Linked DNA regions of Homo sapiens. Each later gene encodes a partner of the first gene's protein in a complex. Each region holds a gene or a part of one and is shown in the gene's direction. Other genes may lie near its edges.

Evidence for each region.
Region 2: the proteins of FKBP4 (region 1) and HSP90AB1 are in contact, whole or in part, in a crystal structure (PDB 1QZ2), measured with the Homo sapiens proteins. Residues at the interface, in NP_002005.1 of Homo sapiens: Lys282, Asn324, Met327, Lys354, Arg358, Lys387; in NP_001258898.1 of Homo sapiens: Met720, Glu721, Glu722, Asp724.

The regions. Positions count from the first base shown.
Region 1 is NC_000012.12:2,789,277-2,799,442, forward strand, and holds the start of FKBP4 (peptidyl-prolyl cis-trans isomerase FKBP4), read left to right. Parts: upstream 1-5,693; 5' UTR 5,694-5,863; coding exon 5,864-5,968; intron 5,969-6,664; exon of another isoform or gene 6,665-7,092; intron 7,093-7,600; exon of another isoform or gene 7,601-7,670; intron 7,671-7,861; coding exon 7,862-8,006; intron 8,007-8,452; coding exon 8,453-8,595; intron 8,596-9,429; coding exon 9,430-9,550; intron 9,551-9,811; coding exon 9,812-9,968; intron 9,969-10,166. UniProt on the Homo sapiens protein: Immunophilin protein with PPIase and co-chaperone activities. Component of steroid receptors heterocomplexes through interaction with heat-shock protein 90 (HSP90).
Region 2 is NC_000006.12:44,241,167-44,251,715, forward strand, and holds the start of HSP90AB1 (heat shock protein HSP 90-beta), read left to right. Parts: upstream 1-5,934; 5' UTR 5,935-6,029; intron 6,030-6,776; exon of another isoform or gene 6,777-6,913; intron 6,914-7,450; exon of another isoform or gene 7,451-7,463; coding exon 7,464-7,610; intron 7,611-8,210; coding exon 8,211-8,417; intron 8,418-8,508; coding exon 8,509-8,668; intron 8,669-8,854; coding exon 8,855-8,988; intron 8,989-9,124; coding exon 9,125-9,433; intron 9,434-9,881; coding exon 9,882-10,047; intron 10,048-10,251; coding exon 10,252-10,442; intron 10,443-10,549. UniProt on the Homo sapiens protein: Molecular chaperone that promotes the maturation, structural maintenance and proper regulation of specific target proteins involved for instance in cell cycle control and signal transduction. Undergoes a functional cycle linked to its ATPase activity.

The DNA.
Region 1 (10,166 bases):
GGCCCCTTAAAAAAAAAGATACCCCTCTTCTCCAAGGGCGTATGAGTCTAACGAGGGACAGATTGGTCTATCCAGGAATCTATGTGAGAATCCCCACCCCTGGCCAGGGCTTCCAGCAACCTTTCTTCCCATGAGAAAATTAAACCTGAGGAGGTAAACCCAACGAAAAACCAAAATAACTCCCCCAGAGGAGGCTACTCGTAGAGAGAAGGGCTACGTAACATCTCATCTGTGAGCCTATGTGAAGAGTGAGACTCAGAGATACAGTGAATACACATTTTGGCTAAATGCTAAAGGGACACATATTTAAGTCAATATCTGACTAAACAAAAACTATTACCAACAAAGAATGAACTTCCAGGATACAAGAATAAATATGAACTCTCAAATAAATTATTGTTCCTATTACAATTCATACCTTTTTTAAAAGTTAGCAGACTGATCATAGAAGTTGGATGTTATAGTGAAGGAACAATGATGTCTTAATTTCTCAATAATGACAGCTGCTGGATTGCTCTTGTGATCACTGCAGTGCACATTTATGATATTAAATATACATTTACTTTCAACTGAGGATGATGGACGTTCAGACTATTTTTCCCAAGTGGCAATCCATGTCCTAGTTATGCTAATTAGATATGATAATAACCTAGACACATACATGATGCTTTTTCATATGTAAAATTTTGTGTTTAGTTTTTGGTAGAGACAGGGTCTCACTATGTTGCCCAGGATGGTCTTGAATTCCTGGCCTCTAGCAATCCTCCTGCCTCAGCCTCCCAAGGTGCTGAGATTACAGGCATGAGCCACTGCACCCGGCCACGTGATCCTTGATCACACACAAGTTCAAGGAAGACAGAAATAATGCTGAAATCAACCTTTGGCTATTTGACCCTCTGAAGATCCAGGCCAAAGCCAAATTTCAGTGCATCCACAGATACAGTAGGATGAAGATTTGCTACTTCCTATCTCCCCAAGAGCAAAACAGAAATATGCGTATTTATCAGAAGGAAGAAATTAGATTTTATAAAAGGAAACAAGCTTTGTTTCAGCAGGACAACCACCAAATATCCCATTACCTCCTCTCAAGGAGATCAGCTAATGGTGGGATTCATGGAAGTGTTGACACCAAGTCTACCTTTAAGGGGCTTTCAGTCTTGTTGGAATGACAGAATATCAGCAGGTGAAGCTACTGTGAGTTACATGAGATAGTCAAGTTCATAGTCAAGTGTCCAGGTGCATAAAGCACAGATGTAATTTAACATTAGAAGAGAAGCACTCCTCTGGAACTAATGGAGCAAAGCCTTATCTAGACCAGTGGCTTTCAACTTCAGGGCTGGAGTCTTCCACATCTTCAACTGCGTATTCCAAGGCCCGGGTCCTGTGGCTCATGTCTGTAACCCCAATACTTTGGGAGGCTGAGGCGGGCAGATCACCTGAGCTCAGGAGTTCGAAACCACCCTGGGCAACATAGTGAGACCCCGTCTCTACAAAAAATAAAATTACTGGGTGTGGTGGCATGTACCCGTAGTCCCAGCTACTTGGGGGACTGAGGTAGGAGGATTGCTTGAGCTCGGGAGATTGAGGCTGCAGTGAGCCATGTTCACGCCACTGCACTCCAGCCTGGGTGACAGAGCTCGAGAGCCTGTCTCAAACAAACAAAAAACACAACTGCATATTCCAGCAATCAACAGGCTGAAATGTGGCACACACACTACCACTCACCTACGCCCTGTGTACCATATACAAGTTCAGGTACTTCACATGTAATATCCCATTGCCAGTCTCAGTGGCTCACACCTGTAATCCCAGCACTTTGGGAGACCAAGGAGGATCACTTGAGTTCAGGAGTTCAAGACCAGCCTGGGCAATACAGGGCGATCCCATCTCTACAAAAAAAATTTTTTTAAGTTAGCCAGGCATGGTGGTCTGTGCCTGTGTAGTCCCAGCTATTCCAGAGGCTGAGGTGGAAGGATTTGCTTCAGCCTGGGAGGCGGAGTCTGCAGTGAGCTGTGATGCACGACTGCATTCCAACCTGGGCGACAGCGTGTGACCCTGTCTCCAAAAAATAAATAACCCATTTAATCTTCAGAGAAAACCCCTGAGAGAAAGGCATTATCATGACAGCCATTTTAGGGACAAGGAAACCTTCCTCCAGGACTCACACGGTGAGTTCAATGATGAAGCTGAGATTTGAATCCAGGTAAAGAGCTTGTGCTGGAATTGGAATCCAGGAGAATCCAATCCAGAGCCCATGAGCTTAACCTTCACGCAGGTCTTCACTATGCACAGGCCTCACATAGGGGCCTACTATTTTTAAATTGTATGAAAATGGGACTAAAATCACTAACATAAATAAATGTTTTAAGAAGTATGTAGAGGCCGGGCACGGTGGCTCACGCCTGTAATCCCAGCACTTTGGGAGGCCGAGGCAGGTGGATCACGAGGTCAGGAGATGGAGACCATCTTGGCTAACACGGTGAAACCCCGTCTCTACTAAAAATACAAAAATTTAGCCGAGCATGGTGGTGGGCAACTGTAGTCCCAGTTGCTTGGGAGGCTGAGGCAGGAGAATGGCATGAACCCGGGAGGCGGAGCTTGCAGTGAGCAGAGATCACGCCACTGCAGTCCGGCCTGGGCAACAGAGCGAGACTCCGTCTCAAAAAAAAAAAAAAAAAAAAAAGAAAGAAAGAAATATGTATTTTTTGGTCAGTAGAGTTTCTATTTTCTCAATCAACAGACACCAAAGTTAACAAGAAAATATGTAAAGGTCTTTAACGGCTTTTTTTTTTTTTGGCATTACATTTTTGACAAATTATACTGGGAACATTCTAACTTAGGCTGGGTGACAGATTTCCAGCTTTCATTGTACTGGTATACTGCATAACATGTATGCATACATGAACACACACACCTATATGCATTTCAGTCTTTTGAACGATCCAAATATCATACAATTATTTGGATGTTAAGTGCATTGGCAGCCTAGGAAGGTCAAGATATGAACTGTAGAAACAAGGGGTCTTCATGTGTAAATGATGGGCCCAGAGTTTGGGATCTGAGCCAGGTCAGCTCTAAGAGGCTCAGTGTGACGAAAACAAAGTTTCTGATCCCAGCAGGAGTCACCTACAGATAAGGTGGATGAGAAAAAGTGTGCTGACTTCCTCCCGCAAAAAAAGGGGACATTTTGGAAGAATTTCGAGTGGTACCGGTTACACATCTTTAATGAGAATACTAACTTAAATGGCCTGGGGAAAGGGTGAGGAGATAGAGGAAAGAGACTAAAACACGTGCACACTTTCTACAGTATATGTACTTTTTATGATCAGAAAAATATCACATAAACGACCAGGAAATATTCTAAGAGAAACAGTAAGTTCCTGCTCCAGGATTCAAGACCCCTAGTTTCCTCCTGTGGTTTCTCCTAGTTTCTGCCTGTGGTCCCCTAGTTTCCTCCTTCACTGTGTGGGGACAGAGCTTCTCACCGGGAACCTTGCCCTCTTGCCCTTCCCTGTCTCACAGACCTCTGTTTTCTTAGCCCTTTGTCCCCATCTCCACTGCAGCGCCTATCAGATCACACTAAAACGACCGTTATTTACCAGCTGCGGAGTTGGAGGCGAGGACTGAGCTAGATACCATACACAGATTCCCGCTTTTTTAACCATTAAATCACCCTCTTTTACAAATGTTACTATCTCTATTTTACAGACAAGAAATCGAGACATGAAGATTAACTAACCTGCCCCAATTTAAACAGCTAACATAACACATGGGCCGCCCAACGTCCCTTACTCCAAAGCACATGCTCATTCCACTAGGGTATTAGGCTATGTGTTAATGTAACGGCAGGCAATCTGAAGGGCTCCACTATGTACGTGCCGAACAGAATTAAAGGGGGGGTCCCACACTGTCCGCTTCCGATGAAGAAAAAGACGCAGAAAAGAAACCGCCACACGTGGAGAATCAGTAGGTGCAAGCCAAGGACAGTTTGCGGTAAACTGCCACCCCGGAAGCCAGCACCCACCATCCTGGTCTCCCGGAGTTTGGGTGACCCCTGGCACTGTTACTTCTGCATAAAAGTAGTGGATTTAACCCCTACAGAGGCAGCGCCCCGTATCCTCTGAAGCTGTCTCCAGCCACCTAAAGAGACGTCTTCATTATGGCTCAACTCATTTGGGCTGTAAATTGCTGAAGCGAAGGGCTTTTTCTTCTGCATCCCTTTCAAGTTCCGTCGGCAGGGACTACAATAAATCATCACATTATGACGCTGAAAGTTCATCTCTAAAAAGCTTTCAATTTAGTTTGATGAGACTAATGGCGTCCAATCGCACAGTGCCGGGCACATAACGGGAAGTCCAAAAATACAGTTATTATTGGAATAAAAATTCAGGCTGGGCGCAGTGGCTCACGCCTGTAATCCGAGAACTTTGGGAGGCCGAGGCGGGCGGATCATTTGAGACCAGATGTTCGAGACCAGCCTGGGCAACATGGCGAAACCCCGTCTCTACTAAAAATACAAAAATTAGTCGGCGTGGTGGCGGACGCCTGTAGTCCCGGCTACAGAGAGCCAAGATCGCACCACCGCACTGCAGCCTGGGCGACAGAGCAAGACCCTGTCTCAAAAAAAAAAAAAAAAGAAAAAAAAATCAGCCAAGACTTGGAAAAAGAAATTTAAAAAAGGAAAATTCATGCAGCCAGTAACTATTGGGACATCACTCACCAGGCACTATGCTAAACTGGGGTTAGGTGCTGAGCAAAACCAGGCCCCTCTCTAGATGGCTCTCTAGGTCCCACGACCATAGCTTAGGTGACACCGGCACCTGCGCGCTCCACAGCCTGTCGAAAAACACTCGGGAAGCAAACATTGAGAAGAAAATACTCCTTCTGTGGGCCTTTAGGAAAACCGAGTGACTTTTTTCGTGAGGGGAACCCATCTTTGTAAGCATTCGCGGAAACGGCAGTTTTATTACCGCCGGGAAGGGTCCCCTGAGTGTGTGCCCCATCTGAGTTCCGAGCTGGGCGGGCCATGCCTTGCCAACCCCGCTGCTCGCAGCATCTGCAGGCGCTGAGCGAGGCATCGCTGCCTGGCCGGGGCTTCTCGGATCTGGGGAAATCGAGGTCGCTTTCCCCGGCTCTCTGCAGCGGGGCAGCGCTGTCCACTCACTCCCCGCTCCCCGCGCACGCCCTTGCCCTCTTTCCCCCAAGTAGGGAAGGGTCTACGCGGGTCATAGCAGAGAGGCCACGCCGCCCGTGGTGACGGCCGGTCCCGGGGAGGGGGCGCCGCCACTGCCATCCCGCAGCCTGCGCTCCCCACACCCCGCCGCAGGCGCAGCGGACTGGTGGAGTGATGTCGGGAGATCGATCGAGAAGAATCTGGAAGAATCCGGTTAGACAGGGAAGCGGGCGGGGATGGGAGGGAGGGAGGAAGGGCCAAGGGAGGCCGCCGGGGAGATCCCGAGTCCGAGGGTCCCAGGAGAAGGGGGAGGGGGCAGGCAGCCAGAAGGAGGCAAGAACCAAAAAAAAAAAAAGAAAAAAAAATTCCGAAGCGCCCGCAGCACTGAGCCCGAACCGGCTCAGTCCCGCCGTCTCTAGAAAGTTCTGCACCCCGCCCCCTCTGTCTGCGCTCCCGCTCCTCCCAGCCCCTCCCTCGCGGCGGGGCGGGACCAATCGCTCCCCGAGCCGCTCCTGACCCACCTACCCCAGCTCTCGCGCCGCGTGCAGAGGTGCTCAAGCCTCCTCGCGGTCCGCAGTCAGTGCCGCCGCGCCCGGCCTCCCGCACGCCCCGCAGGTAGCGCCCCCGCCCGCGGCCCAGAGTGCGCTCGCGCCGGCACCAGCTCCCGGATAAACGGCGCGCCGCGCGGAGATGACAGCCGAGGAGATGAAGGCGACCGAGAGCGGGGCGCAGTCGGCGCCGCTGCCCATGGAGGGAGTGGACATCAGCCCCAAACAGGACGAAGGCGTGCTGAAGGTGAGGGGCGGCGGGGCCTGCGGAGGCGTCGGAACCCGGGGCCCCGCGGGCCGCCCTTCCGCCGCGCCCGGAGCCCGCGGCCGGGCACGGGTCGAGGCGGCCGCCTTTGCAGCCTCGCGGCCGTCCCGCCGGGGGCCGGTGGCATCGCCGTCCCGGACCGGGCTGCGTCGTTTAAGGCACCGAGGCCGGCCATGCGCTCGGCAGGGGGGCGGCCTAGGTGCGCGGGCCGAGGCCCCAGGCTCCCCAGCCGGCAGCGCCCGGGCCCGGGCAGGGGGTCGGGATTGCAGTGCCCACCCCGGCGCGCGCGGGGCGGCGGAGAGGGGCGGGGCGAGGCGACCGCCGCGGGCACCCGAGCCGCAGCCCGGGGCCAGGCCGGGCCTCCCACGCCACGCCGCCCCCGACCTCGCGGCCCCAGCGGAGCTGCCAGCCGCGGGCCGCCTCGTTGGTGGCGGTGCCAGGGCTCGCCCACCCGGGCGGTGGAACACGGGCCAGGACGGGGAGCGACTCCCCACAGTGCTTTCCTGGCCCTTCGGCCTTTGTGCGACGCAGGCGCGACAGGGTTCCGGCGCCCTCCCGGGGTCCCCTGCCGACGCCGGGACCCAGCGAGGTCCCCACTCGCCGCGCGGCGCCCCCTCCCTCGGCCCCGGGGAGGCCGGGCGCGGGGCATGCCGGGAGCTGTAGTCCCCTCCCCCCTCCGCCGCCTCCCGGAGCCAGGGCTGCGGGGTGTGGGGCGGGGAGGAGGCGCTCTGCTGTGGAGCCTGCCGCCGAGTGACCGCTCGACTACAAATAGCCTGGGGAGCTGCGGGGAGGGCATCTTGACCTGGGCCAGGACAACCTGCCTTGGGTCGGAGCAGGTTCCAGGGAGAATCAGAGATGGTGAATTCCCAGCCTGCGTCTTATGCCTTCTCCCCATCCGCTGCTGCGTCCTCATCCTGGCTTCCCACCGCTGAGCTCCGCGTGTGCGGCACCCACCTCAGGGGGCCTTTACCTGGTCCAGAAGTGCATCTGTCTTTGCACCAGATTATTGGGGACCTCAAGCGTCTGCTCCAGCGGCTCTCCTGTGGCATGTGACTTCCCCTTCTCGCTCCAGCGTCCTGCCGTTTTCTACGAGATTGTTATTCCAGGAAAGCTCATTTCCCCTTTGATCCATCATTCCTTCCCTTTTACCTTTCTACTCCTCAAAGCCCCTGTCTATTCTTCGTGGAAGCTTTCCCTTGGAGGGTAACCACACACCTACCAGGTGGCGCTAAAGAAGCCTTTACGTTTCTGGGAAATACTCCAGCCCTGGACTAACTACCAGAGGAATACTCAGCTCCCAAGTCAGAGTTTAAGGTCCCATGGAGAGCCTCCGGGTTCACCTATAACCTGGTTTCTTCCTTACCTGTTTTGAACTGTTTCTATTCTCTTCACTCATACTCCTCTCGCTCTCCTGTCTCCAAACCAGACCTTAGTCTGACGACCACTGGCATGAAGGAAGAAGGAGGAAGTGTGGCATAAATACTTCCCCCTTTGCCGATTATAATAATAATCTATTATTCAACCTTTTACTGGTCTAATCTTCCAACAACTGTAGGAGATAGGGATTATCATCACTGCTTTACAAATAAAGTGTGGAGAATTTTAAAAACTTACCATACAGCGGAAACTTGAACTCAGATCTCTCAGCCTTTTGTCTCCTTTTTCAAACCAAGTCTTGCTGCACCTCAAGAAAGACAAGAAGGTTAGTTGACTCATAAGCCAAGCTGCTAGTAACTGAATCTGGAGGGACAAGTAGGCAGAGGAGGATGAACACAGAGAAGTCCCTTTATGTTCCCTCTGGAGGCTTGCAGGCAGTGCTGGTGCCCCTTTCTGCCCCAAACCCTGGGGTACTCACTTTCTCCCCCTTCCTCCCAGGTCATCAAGAGAGAGGGCACAGGTACAGAGATGCCCATGATTGGGGACCGAGTCTTTGTCCACTACACTGGCTGGCTATTAGATGGCACAAAGTTTGACTCCAGTCTGGATCGCAAGGACAAATTCTCCTTTGACCTGGGAAAAGGTAGGCGTGGTCAGTGGGCTGGTAGGATAGGTTCGAGGTGGACACAAGCTGTCACAAGCAGAAACCATTTTCTCAGGACCAAGCTCAGGGAGGAATGGTTTATCACAGTCTGTTAACTCTTTCGGTCACTCTTTTTTTTTTTTTTCTACCGTTCTGTAACTATATTGATCTCTGTCTCCCCTTCTCCTCATCACCTCCCAACACCTTACTCCCCCTTCAAAGGTGGACTGTCTTGCATCTTAAACTCTTTTGTTCAGGGTCACGTGATCTTTTACAGTTCTTAGACCTGGTAGCACTTAATACAACCAGGTACCTCACCTTCTGGTCCCATTTCTAAAGGATGTCCAGCTTCCCCATGAGTGTGGTGCAGTAACTCTTCAGGAGCACTGTTTGAGCCCAGAATCAGAACCCTGCTAAGGCGGTCCTGTTTGCTTCTGTACCTGCAGGGGAGGTCATCAAGGCTTGGGACATTGCCATAGCCACCATGAAGGTGGGGGAGGTGTGCCACATCACCTGCAAACCAGAATATGCCTACGGTTCAGCAGGCAGTCCTCCAAAGATTCCCCCCAATGCCACGCTTGTATTTGAGGTGAGTGTTTGGTCACTGAGATCCAGGCTAAGAGCCAGGCCTTATCTCAGCCCAATGCCTGGCTGCCCTCCAGCCCTTCCTGCTTCTTGGAGACAATGTAGCCAAGGCTGAGGGTCTGGCCTTATGGGAGGAGAAATGCAGAGGGCTCTGCTGCTGCTAGTAATGGAAGTAATAGAAGCTTCGGGTGGGAAGAGGCAGGCACAAGCCCCTCTCCAGACTCAAAGCATGGTCAGGGTTAAGGCATCTTTATCTCCAGAGCGGTACCCAGAAGAATACTGAAAGGAGTCGGGATGTCAGAAACTATGTCCCGTTATAAATGGCAGTACAGAATATTGGTGCTCTAGAGACCAGAAGAGGGAGCAGTAGCTCCCCTGTGGGTCAAGGGCTGAGAAAAGGCTTCACTGAGGAGATAGAACTTGACATTGTTCAATCTGAAAATGGTTGAGCCAATCCGTGGGCCCTTGAATACTGAGAAACTGCTGAGAGATGTTGGGTAATCATTTCTAATACCTACCAGGTTGGGCTTATCAGGTAGTGTGAATTAGGATTATCTGGGACGCGTCCTGATATGTCCGTGTTAGTAGAGCAGGTAGCAAATAGATTGCTCTCCTCAGCTTAACTGAAATCTATGTAGTCTGCCCACCTCTACCAAAGTTGAGATTAGGGCAGCTCCCAAGAACTGAAAAAAAGTGCCACTCTACCCAACTCCTTGTGACTGCCCTTGTGGTCAGATCCGGCCTGGCAGTTAGTAGGGACTCTCTCGGATGAGAAAGATTGTGTTTCACTGCCCATGAGTTAGCATGGGAAGGAATTGTGTCACATCTTGTCCCACAGGTGGAGTTGTTTGAGTTTAAGGGAGAAGATCTGACGGAAGAGGAAGATGGCGGAATCATTCGCAGAATACAGACTCGCGGTGAAGGCTATGCTAAGCCCAATGAGGGTGCTATCGTGGAGGGTGAGACAGTACAGTCTGGGCTTTCAATTCTCATTCTGATATTTAGGCCTTGTGTGGCTTTGGGCAAGACACTTCCGTTCTCCGAGCCTATCTTCTTGTCCATAAAATGAGGGGTTGGACCATATTCTCTTCATATCACTCCAGATTTGAGAACACAGGAGAATCTTGGGATGATGGGGGTGATGCAGGGAGGCTGATGGCATCCTTCCTCAGTCACCTGCCCTCTTACAACTCTGGTACACTGCCTCTCTTTCATGCCAGTTGCACTGGAAGGGTACTACAAGGACAAGCTCTTTGACCAGCGGGAGCTCCGCTTTGAGATTGGCGAGGGGGAGAACCTGGATCTGCCTTATGGTCTGGAGAGGGCCATTCAGCGCATGGAGAAAGGAGAACATTCCATCGTGTACCTCAAGCCCAGGTGAGGGGTGGGCACTTCGTAGGGTAGGCAGGCAGGCAAACCAAGATCAAAGATATAAAATGAATTGTAGAACCAGCTGTTTGTATCCTTTTTAACTCTGGCCACACCAAACATACACCATTATGATATCCTCAGTGTACTTAGAAGTATGGCCCAATTGTCTACATCTCCTTGGATCTAAGCCCAGTCTTTTCAGTC
Region 2 (10,549 bases), on another chromosome or scaffold:
TTGGTGAAATTGTACAAGAAAAAAGAGATAAGACATGAAAAACAATTTTAGAAATGAAGACATACTTTATTTTTTAATGTTATTTATTTATTTATTTGAGACAGAGTCTCACTCTGTCACCCAGGCTGGAGTGCAGTGGTGTGATCTTGGCTCACTGCAACCTCCGCCTCCTGGGTTCAAGGGTCCTCCTGCCTCAGCCTCTCTAGTAGCTGGGATTACAGGTGCCTGCCACCACGCCTGGCTAATTTTTGTATTTTTAGTAGAGAAGGGGTTTCACCATTTTGGCCAGGCTGGTCTCAAACTCCTGGCCTCCGCCCACCTTGGCCTCTCAAAGTTCTGGGATTACAGGTGTGAGCCACCTTGCCTGGCAGAAGACGTACTTTAGATAGAAGAGAAATTGAAAAGATCGTAAGAGTCTGGGCATGGTGCCTCACGCCTATAATTCCAGCACTTTGGGAACCCAAGGCAGAAGGACTGCTTGAGCCCAGGAGTTTGAGACCAGCCTGGGCAACAGCACAAGACTCTGTCTCTACAGATAATTATAAAAATTAGCTGGACATGGTGGTGTTTGTTTTTTTTTTTTAATTTATAGCAAGTTAGGAATAAAAAGAGTAAATATGTTCAGCTGGGTGCGGGTGGCTCATGCCTGTATTCCCAGCACTTTGGGAGGCCAAGGTGGGAGGATCACTTGAGCCCAGGAGTTTGGGATGAGACCAGCCTGGGCAACATAGGGAGACCCTGTCTCTACAAAATAAAAAAATTAGCCAGGCATGGTGGTCCCAGTTACTTCGGGGGTTGAACTGGGAGGATCGCCTGAGTCTGGGAGGTTGAGGCTGTAGTGAGCTATGTATTACTGTACTTCAGCCCCCGCAACAGAACAAGACCCTGGACCCTGTCTCAAAAAACAAACAAACAAACAAAAAGTTCAATGGTGAAATGTTAGAAGCTTTCATTTTCTGATTAGGAATCAGACAGGGATGCCCAGAATCATTATTTCCACTCATCATTGTTCTGCAGGTCCTAGCTGGTGCATTAAAACAAGAAATAAGAGATACAAGAATCAGAAGAGGAGAAACCAAACTGTCATTGTTTTCAGATGATATGGTTGTACCTATAAAACACCAAAACTTTTATAGTCAAATTAAGAATTAATAAGCTAGCTTACCAACTTGCTCAATCAATAAACAAAAATTCAATTGCTCAATTGCTTTTTGAACTCTGGGAAACCGAAAATGAACAAAAATTTCCATTTTCTATGGCATCAAAAAAATAACAATACTAACAATACAGTGAGCAAAAATTATGCAAGAGACTTCCCTTGTGTTCTAGTGGAATGTGAAAATGGAGGCAAAGAGATGGAGTCCATGCTGGCTGTGCAGACCTGCCCAATTGTCCAATGCATCTGAATGTCAGGCTCACTAGTATTGGAGGGTGTCAGTTCAGGGTATTCCCTCAGGAATTCAGAGAGCTAAGGCTCGTGGAACTGGGAAGGCCCAGAAAGTAACGGGACACACCTGGCAGGCACTGAGCTTAAGAGGCTGCTTGTTCTAGGGGTTCAGGGTCCACAGCTACTCTCCATGCTCATATCTCTGATGTCCTGTTACCCTCAGTTGTTTTATTCGTTCACTGAGCTTTATTTAACTCCCCTCCGTGGCCTCTGTGAACCCTAGAGACTCTGTCCAGGCTGAGTCTCTGTGCTCCCTGCAAGACTTTGCTGAGCTTTATGTAGCTTAGGGGTCTGCAAACGTTTTCTGTAAAAGGCAAGAGAGTAAATGTCTTAGGGTTTGCAAGCGTTATGGTCTCTGTCACACCTATCGATTTTGACTTTATGTTACAGAAGCAGTCAAAGACAAGGGCTACGTTTCAACAAAACTTCATTAAAATTGGCCAGGCGCAGTGGCTCACGACTGTAATCTCAGCACTTTGGGAGTCTGAGGCGGGCAGATCACCTGAAGTCAGGAGTTCGAAACCAGCCTGGCCGACATGGTGAAACCCGGTCTCTACCAAAAATACAAAAATTAGCCGGGCGTGGTGGCGGGCGCCTGTAATCCCAGCTACCTGGGATGCTCAGGCAGGAAAATCGCTTGAACCCGGGAAGTGGAGGTCGCAGTATGCTGAGATTCTGCCATTGCACCCCAGCCTGGGAGACGAGTGAGACTCCGTCTAAAAAAAAAAAAAAAAAACTTCATGAAAACAGAAATTCAAATTTCATATAATTTTCCCATGTCAAAATAATATCTTTCTTTTGATTTTTTTTTCAACCATTATGAAGTGTAAAAACCCTTCTTAGCCCACAGGCCATTCAAAAAACAAGCAGCAGGCCCACCAGCTGCAGACCTTGGGTTGTTAATCCCTGCTTTAGCTGGCCACCCTCCGACAGCAGAAGGTTGGGCTGGGCCTAGGAGGTTTCATGGAGGAATAAAAGGGATCTGGGGAACATCAGTGGTTCCAAGGCTGGGAATAAGGCTTCGGACGGTGTAGTTTTTTTTTGTTTTGTTTTTGTTTTCTGAGACGGAATCTTGCTCTTATTGCCCAGGCTGGAGTGCAATAGCGCGATCATGGCTCACCGCAACCTCCACCTCCTGGGTTCAAGCGATTCTCCTGCCTCAGCCTCCTGAGTAGCTGGAATTACAGGCATGTGCCACCACACCCAGCTAATTTTGTATTTTTAGTAGAGACGGGGTTTCTCCATGTTGGTCAGGCTGGTCTCAAAACTCCTGACCTCAGGTGATCCGCCCGCCTTGGCCTCCCAAAGGTCTGGGATTACAGGCGTGAGCCACCCGTGCCCAGTCTGGAAGACATAGTTTTAAGCCTGTCTTTTATAACCTTCACTTCTCTCACTCTTAAGATCAGGACTTCTTACCAGTGGCATTTGCAGCCCTCTGCGACCTAACCCCCATCTGCAGGGCTACTTTCAACTCCTTGTGCTTCCCTTTGGGGTTCCTGAGCTATGGTTCCTCTAATGGGGCTCTGTTCCTTTCCATGCTTTCCATGTCATGGCCTGGCTAGGCATGGTCCTAAGACTGCTCCCTTTCCCAAGCTGAGCTGAGGGCCTCTGCGGCTTCTCCCATCCTCCTATGGTTCACACTTGGCTGCTGCAGCCTCCAGTGGGTTAAGGGCTCCCAGTCCTGTGTATGCATCTCTGCATCCCCAGGATCTCCACACAGTGGAGGCTTAGTGAGTGTCAATGAGTGGAAAACGATGGAGCTTGTGGACACAGGTAGGCGGTCTCCTGAAAGGCTTCCTGGAAGAGAAAGTGGAATTTCTTTTTTTTTTTTCTTTTTTGAGACAGAGTCTCACTGTGTCGCTCAGGCTGGAGTGCAGTGGCGTGATCTCGGCTCACGGCAACCTCTGCCGCCCGGGTTCAAGTGATTCTCCTGCTTCAGCCTCCCAAGTAGCGGGGACTATAGGCGCGCTACCACGCCCGGCTAATTTTTGTATTTTTAGTAGAGACAAGGTTTCACCAGAGTGGCCAGGCTGGTCTTGAACTCCTGACCTGGTGATCCGCTGGACTCGGCCTCCCAAAGTGCTGGAATTACAGGCATGAGCCACCGCGCCCAGCCCCCTTTTTTTTTTTTTTTTTTTTTTGAGACGGAGTTTCTCTTTTGTTGCCCAGGCTGGAGTGCAATGGCATGGTCTCAGCTCACTGCAGCCTCTGCCTCCAGAGTTCAAGCAATCTTCCTGCCTCAGCCTCCCAAGTAGCTGGGATTACAGGCATGTGCCACCACGCCCAGCTAATTTTTAGTAGAGACGAGGTTTTTCACCATGTTGGCCAGGCTGGTTGTGAACTACTGACCTCGGGTGATCCACCCACCTCGGCCTTCCAAAGTGCTGGGATTACAGGTATGAGCCACTGTGCCCAGCAGAGAAAGTGGAATTTCTATGCTGGTGTAACATTTGAGATTTTCCCATTTAGAAAGTCTTCAGGAAGCCGTCGAGTCTTGACACAGAAAGGATCCAGCTCAGGGGAAGCCCATCCACAGGAGTGATTCCTGCTTTGGATTTAGGTCCTAGGGGTGAGATCACATCCCTGCTCCATTTCTGGAGCAGAAAGGGAGCTAGTGCAGCAAGGACTCTGAGTAGACGGGCCTTGGGAGTCACTGAAGCCACTTCCCTGTTGACAGAATGTGCACACTGACTTTCATCCGCTCACAGGAGAGTGAGAGTTTGTGAATGCTCTCTGTGAACTGGGGAGCAGATTTTTAATGAGCTCTGCTTAGAAGGAGAGGACACGTTAAGGGATCACGCTCCCACTGGTTTGCGGTTTTGGTCAGGAATAGAGCACCCAACGCCCCTTCTTATAGACTTCTCCCAGCCATAGGCTTTTTGCAGACCATAATGAAAGGGAGAAAGGATATCCAATCGGGATGGTGATGGCAGGCATGGCGAAGTGGACAGGGACAAAGAAGAGGAAAGCAAGGGACACCCTTTGTTCTTTGGTATTCAACACATGAACAAAACTTGTTAACGAATCGTAGACTGGGTAACAACAGGGCTGGTGAGGGAGGACGATGTGGGTGGCTGTGGGGAAACTCTTCCCAAGCATCCCAGGGGTGGGCCAGGAAGGGGAGCAGATGGACATCTACAGGGCACAGAGCAGGGAGTGGCTATTCTCTCCTGGAGGGGTTGTGGGTCCAGCAGGCTTTCGGATGAGGCCTTGGAAAGGCAAGGACAGCTTGCCAACTGGAGGGCAGGCAAAACGGCTGAGCCAGGCCAGACACGGCAGCTCACTGGCCAGGGGCATGGCCTAGGGGCTCTGGTGCCAAGGCTGAAGGGGAACAACTTGGCCAGCCGCTCTGTGGCCGGCATCGTCACGCGGCCTCCAAGAGCTCCGGCTGCCCTGCACTGGTTCCCAGAGACTCCCTCCTTCCCAGGTCCAAATGGCTGCAGGAGCGAAGTGGGCGGAAAAAAAGCGAACCAGCTTGAGAAAGGGCTTGACGTGCCTGCGTAGGGAGGGCGCATGTCCCCGTGCTCCGTGTACGTGGCGGCCGCAGGGGCTAGAGGGGGGTCCCCCCCGCAGGTACTCCACTCTCAGTCTGCAAAAGTGTACGCCCGCAGAGCCGCCCCAGGTGCCTGGGTGTTGTGTGATTGACGCGGGGAAGGAGGGGTCAGCCGATCCCTCCCCAACCCTCCATCCCATCCCTGAGGATTGGGCTGGTACCCGCGTCTCTCGGACAGGTCAGAGCGGGTCGCCGGGTGGGGTCGCTGCAAAAACCCTGCCCCGGCCGCAGCCGGAGAGGCGGAGCCTCGCGGGGAGGGGGCGGGACCGCCGAGACAGGCCTGGAAACTGCTGGAAATGCCGCAGTGCCGCCGCCGCGCCTTCCGCCGCATGTCGGCAAAGAGTCCCCGCCAGCCCCGGCCGGCGCCCTCCCCCTACGCTGAGCTGCCCCTCAGCGCGAACCCTCCGCCCTTCCTCTACTCCTGCGAGAGTCGGGATCTGGGGCTACCCAAGGTTGGGTCCCGAATGCCAGTCCCTCTGTCGGGACGCGAGATGTGTAGGGCAGATGCTAGGAAGAAGATTGGGTCTGGGAGCGGTGGTCCGCGTGGTTAGCTGCCTCCGCTCTTTTTCGGTGTCCCCCCCAGTCCCGCCCTTGGGTGTGGGGACGCCTGCCCCACAAGTGTTTAGGGAGGTCAGTGGGTTCCTCGCCCGTAGAGACACCGTTTATGCCAAATGAGCACTCCTCATCCCCGCTCTTGATGGAGTCATGTCCTAGACGTGAAACTATGGGGCTGTGATCACAAGCAAATGTGTGGGCGGATCCGTTGCTTGGGTTCTTCCCCGCCCCCTCTTTTTTTCGGACCATGACGTCAAGGTGGGCTGGTGGCGGCAGGTGCGGGGTTGACAATCATACTCCTTTAAGGCGGAGGGATCTACAGGAGGGCGGCTGTACTGTGCTTCGCCTTATATAGGGCGACTTGGGGCACGCAGTAGCTCTCTCGAGTCACTCCGGCGCAGTGTTGGGACTGTCTGGGTATCGGAAAGCAAGCCTACGTTGCTCACTATTACGTATAATCCTTTTCTTTTCAAGGTAAGGCTGAGATCTCCGCTAGGCTTCTTTCCCTTTAGTGCTGTATTCGTGTTGTTTTTGTTTTTTTCTGTCCTTTAGGGAGCCTTAGTCTAGATGTCGGGGTGGCTTGTGGATAACGCTCTGGATTTTTATAGGGTGAGGGTAGTGGTGGGTGAGGTTTTTTGAGTCCTCCTCGGTTTTCTCTAGTGTGTTTGGGGGGTGGGGCTTTCTCTCGGCGCCTGCTGGCCGTAGCGAGGTGGGCTGTGGGGTTGGGGCAGTGGGCGGCTGGCAGCTGCACGTGGTGGCCGCGCGGCCCGGGACGCTGCCATTTTTGCCCCTCCACTTCCGGACGCGGCTACGGGGCGTCGGAGGGGGACCGCAGGGTGGCGGGGGTGCCCGCTCGGGTGACTCAGCACGGCCTTGTGGGACTGGCTTTGTCACCTCTCTTATCGGACGCGTTGTTAAAGCCTTCTTGGGTGCTTTGTTTCTGTGAGGGAGGGTTGACGGTGTGGGAAGAGAGCTTTCGGTCTCCAGCACCCGATACTCCCTCCTTCCAGATCTTTCTTGCAGTCCCGGTGGAGGAGGGGCGGGGAGGGGAGCAGGTTCTGGAAGATTCATGGGCTCCTTCCTCCGCCCTTCCTCGAGAGCTGAGATTGTTCTGGAAGCTTCTGGATTCTGGCGCCCCGCCCCAGTGCCCGGATGCTGGGGCGAGGGAGGGTGCACTGCGGCGCCCCCTCCTCGCGTGGTCCTGGCCGACGCATGTCCGGCAGTGACGAGTGTCGGCCTGGTGGCTACGGCCACCATCTTTCTTGGGTTTGGTCCTGTTCTGTAATTTTGTGCTGTGAAAGGGTCGTGGTGGAGCTTTTGGCTTAAGAATTCTTTGTCCGGATTTAATTGCTCCTCCGGTGGGTATCGTATGGATCCCAGGTTATTCCTCCCTGCCCTATGGGGCAGGAGTGTCCCGCCCTTGGACTGGTCTTAGGAACTGACACCTCAGGGGGAGCAGTTTAAAGTTAGTGCCATTTTTATCTTAAACTAGTCACTTTGATCTCCCCCAAATAAAGAACTGTAGGTAGTGATTTTCACATTTAAATTTGTGTAAGGATTACTTGGGATCTCTAGATACCTGGGTTGGACCAACATTATGATTTTTCTGCCATACTACCAGATGATGCTGAGGCTGCTGGTCACCATTCTTTAAGTAGGTGGGTTCTGTGACATTTGGTTGAAGAATATTTAGCTTATTTTCTTTTTCCTTCTGAATTTTCAGGCCTCCCACTTAGTGTGTAGTCTGAGATCTTTAAGAGAATGCATTTTTAGTCTTGGGAAGGGATAGTACTCCGGTTAAACCAGTCTGAACTCACTGTCTAAGGTCCTAACAAATGATATGACCTTTAGGATTTTTAAACATGGGGCCTTAGTGTTCTTTTGTAATTAATGAGATTTTTATTTTAGATGCCTGAGGAAGTGCACCATGGAGAGGAGGAGGTGGAGACTTTTGCCTTTCAGGCAGAAATTGCCCAACTCATGTCCCTCATCATCAATACCTTCTATTCCAACAAGGAGATTTTCCTTCGGGAGTTGATCTCTAATGCTTCTGATGTAGGTGCTCTGGTTTCCACATTTGGCATGGTTTTTTTTTTTGATACTCTAGAAGGAGGGGAAAGGAGTGGTTTGGCCTTTGTTGGGGACTACTATTGAAGGGGGTAAACTTGCAGCTATTCCAAAAAGATGGGTTTTACTCTGGCCATCTTGAACTTGGAAGGGACTATGTCCAGAATAAGTGGGCTCATGGAACTAACTGGTTCTAAAGCCTCAAGATAGGGGGCAATCAGATTTGAGGCTGAGAGAGGTAAACCAAGATTTTCTTTGAAGATACGGGCTTTAAGAAAGCAAAAGTGGCTGAGCGTGTTGGCTCACACCTGTAATGCCAAGGCAGGAGGATCACTTGAGCCTAGGATTTCGAGGGCAGCCTGGGCAACCGCGAGACCTTGTCTCTGCAAAAAATTAAATATTAGTTGGGCACGGTGGCATGTGCCTGTAGTCCCAGCTACTTGGGAAGCTGGGGTTGGGAGGATGGCTCGAACCTGGGAGGTCAAGGCTGCAGTGAGCTGTCATCCTTGCCACTGCACTGTAGCTTGGGCAACAGAGCAAGAGTCTGTCTTGGAAAGAGCAAAAGTAAGTTGCTGTTTGTATTTCCAGGCCTTGGACAAGATTCGCTATGAGAGCCTGACAGACCCTTCGAAGTTGGACAGTGGTAAAGAGCTGAAAATTGACATCATCCCCAACCCTCAGGAACGTACCCTGACTTTGGTAGACACAGGCATTGGCATGACCAAAGCTGATCTCATAAATAATTTGGGAACCATTGCCAAGTCTGGTACTAAAGCATTCATGGAGGCTCTTCAGGTATTGCAGTTCTGTAGGCATTCATACTTATCTGTGTTCTTTGGTTTTTTGCTTCTTTAAAACTTGTGATTGACTTTAAACTTGTTGGCAGGCTGGTGCAGACATCTCCATGATTGGGCAGTTTGGTGTTGGCTTTTATTCTGCCTACTTGGTGGCAGAGAAAGTGGTTGTGATCACAAAGCACAACGATGATGAACAGTATGCTTGGGAGTCTTCTGCTGGAGGTTCCTTCACTGTGCGTGCTGACCATGGTAAGTTAGCTTTTCTGTTACAAGGTAGTTGGGTTAGGATTTTCTGGGCTCACACCAGTAGCAGAAATTTTGGGCATCCTGTCTGTAAAGCAGTTCTTCACAGCAGTTCTGCTGATACTTACTAATTGCTGGTCTCAACTGCATATACTTTTTACCCTGTTACACGCTTGTAATTGACTCTTCTAGGTGAGCCCATTGGCAGGGGTACCAAAGTGATCCTCCATCTTAAAGAAGATCAGACAGAGTACCTAGAAGAGAGGCGGGTCAAAGAAGTAGTGAAGAAGCATTCTCAGTTCATAGGCTATCCCATCACCCTTTATGTGAGTATGGACTTTTAAATCTTTTACACTTAACGTGCAGGATGTTTCCTGTTCTGGAGAATCTCATTGTCCCTGGCTTTTGCTTTCCCTGGTAGTGTTTTGTACTCCAAGGCTAACTTCTGTTTTTGTTACTTAGTTGGAGAAGGAACGAGAGAAGGAAATTAGTGATGATGAGGCAGAGGAAGAGAAAGGTGAGAAAGAAGAGGAAGATAAAGATGATGAAGAAAAACCCAAGATCGAAGATGTGGGTTCAGATGAGGAGGATGACAGCGGTAAGGATAAGAAGAAGAAAACTAAGAAGATCAAAGAGAAATACATTGATCAGGAAGAACTAAACAAGACCAAGCCTATTTGGACCAGAAACCCTGATGACATCACCCAAGAGGAGTATGGAGAATTCTACAAGAGCCTCACTAATGACTGGGAAGACCACTTGGCAGTCAAGGTGTGAGAAGCCTTTGCATGTTGGCTCAACATGCACATATGGAGAGGAATGAGTTAGGTGGAAGAGTGTTGGGTAATAGACACACGGAACTTGTCCAACTGATAACAGAAATGTGATAGCCATGTGATTTCACTTACTGATTACCCTGTCATAGTGAAGTGCCATCATTTCTAATGACCTCACTTTCTCTTCTTATGGAAATCTGGGTAATGTCTATTGGCAGCCTTACACATCCAGGGTTCTGATCAGAGGGGACTGTTTTCTACATACAGCTAGTACCCATCTAGATCGTGGAGGGCATTAAGGCTCAGTTTTCTCAGGAGCTGCTTGTTGTGTGTGCTCTATCCCTTAGGCTTAGGGAGGATCATTGTTCCACTTTTAGATAATTTGGTGTTGGGGCTAAAAGGTCCTCTTTTGAAATGTACCACTTATTTTTGGTTTCTTTCAGCACTTTTCTGTAGAAGGTCAGTTGGAATTCAGGGCATTGCTATTTATTCCTCGTCGGGCTCCCTTTGACCTTTTTGAGAACAAGAAGAAAAAGAACAACATCAAACTCTATGTCCGCCGTGTGTTCATCATGGACAGCTGTGATGAGTTGATACCAGAGTATCTCAGTGAGTATCTCCTTGGCCTAATTTAGTTGGGTGAAGTCTTGGGAGGTTTTAGGCATTCTGCTAGGATATTCTAAGGTAACAGTTTTCTGCAATACATAGTAGGTGTAAGGGTTCAGGAGGCTATTAGAGCCTTCTGTTTGAATCTGGGGACCAGGTCTGGTCTAGCTGTTTTTTACTGAGCTTTCTCACCCTGGTTGATGGCAGATTTTATCCGTGGTGTGGTTGACTCTGAGGATCTGCCCCTGAACATCTCCCGAGAAATGCTCCAGCAGAGCAAAATCTTGAAAGTCATTCGCAAAAACATTGTTAAGAAGTGCCTTGAGCTCTTCTCTGAGCTGGCAGAAGACAAGGAGAATTACAAGAAATTCTATGAGGCATTCTCTAAAAATCTCAAGGTAAAAAGGCAAATAATGCTTATTCCCTTTACCACTTTCTTAGTAATAACAATAAATTATTCCATTCACATTGAAAGTGAAGTTATTGTAGTTAAGCTGGATTGTTT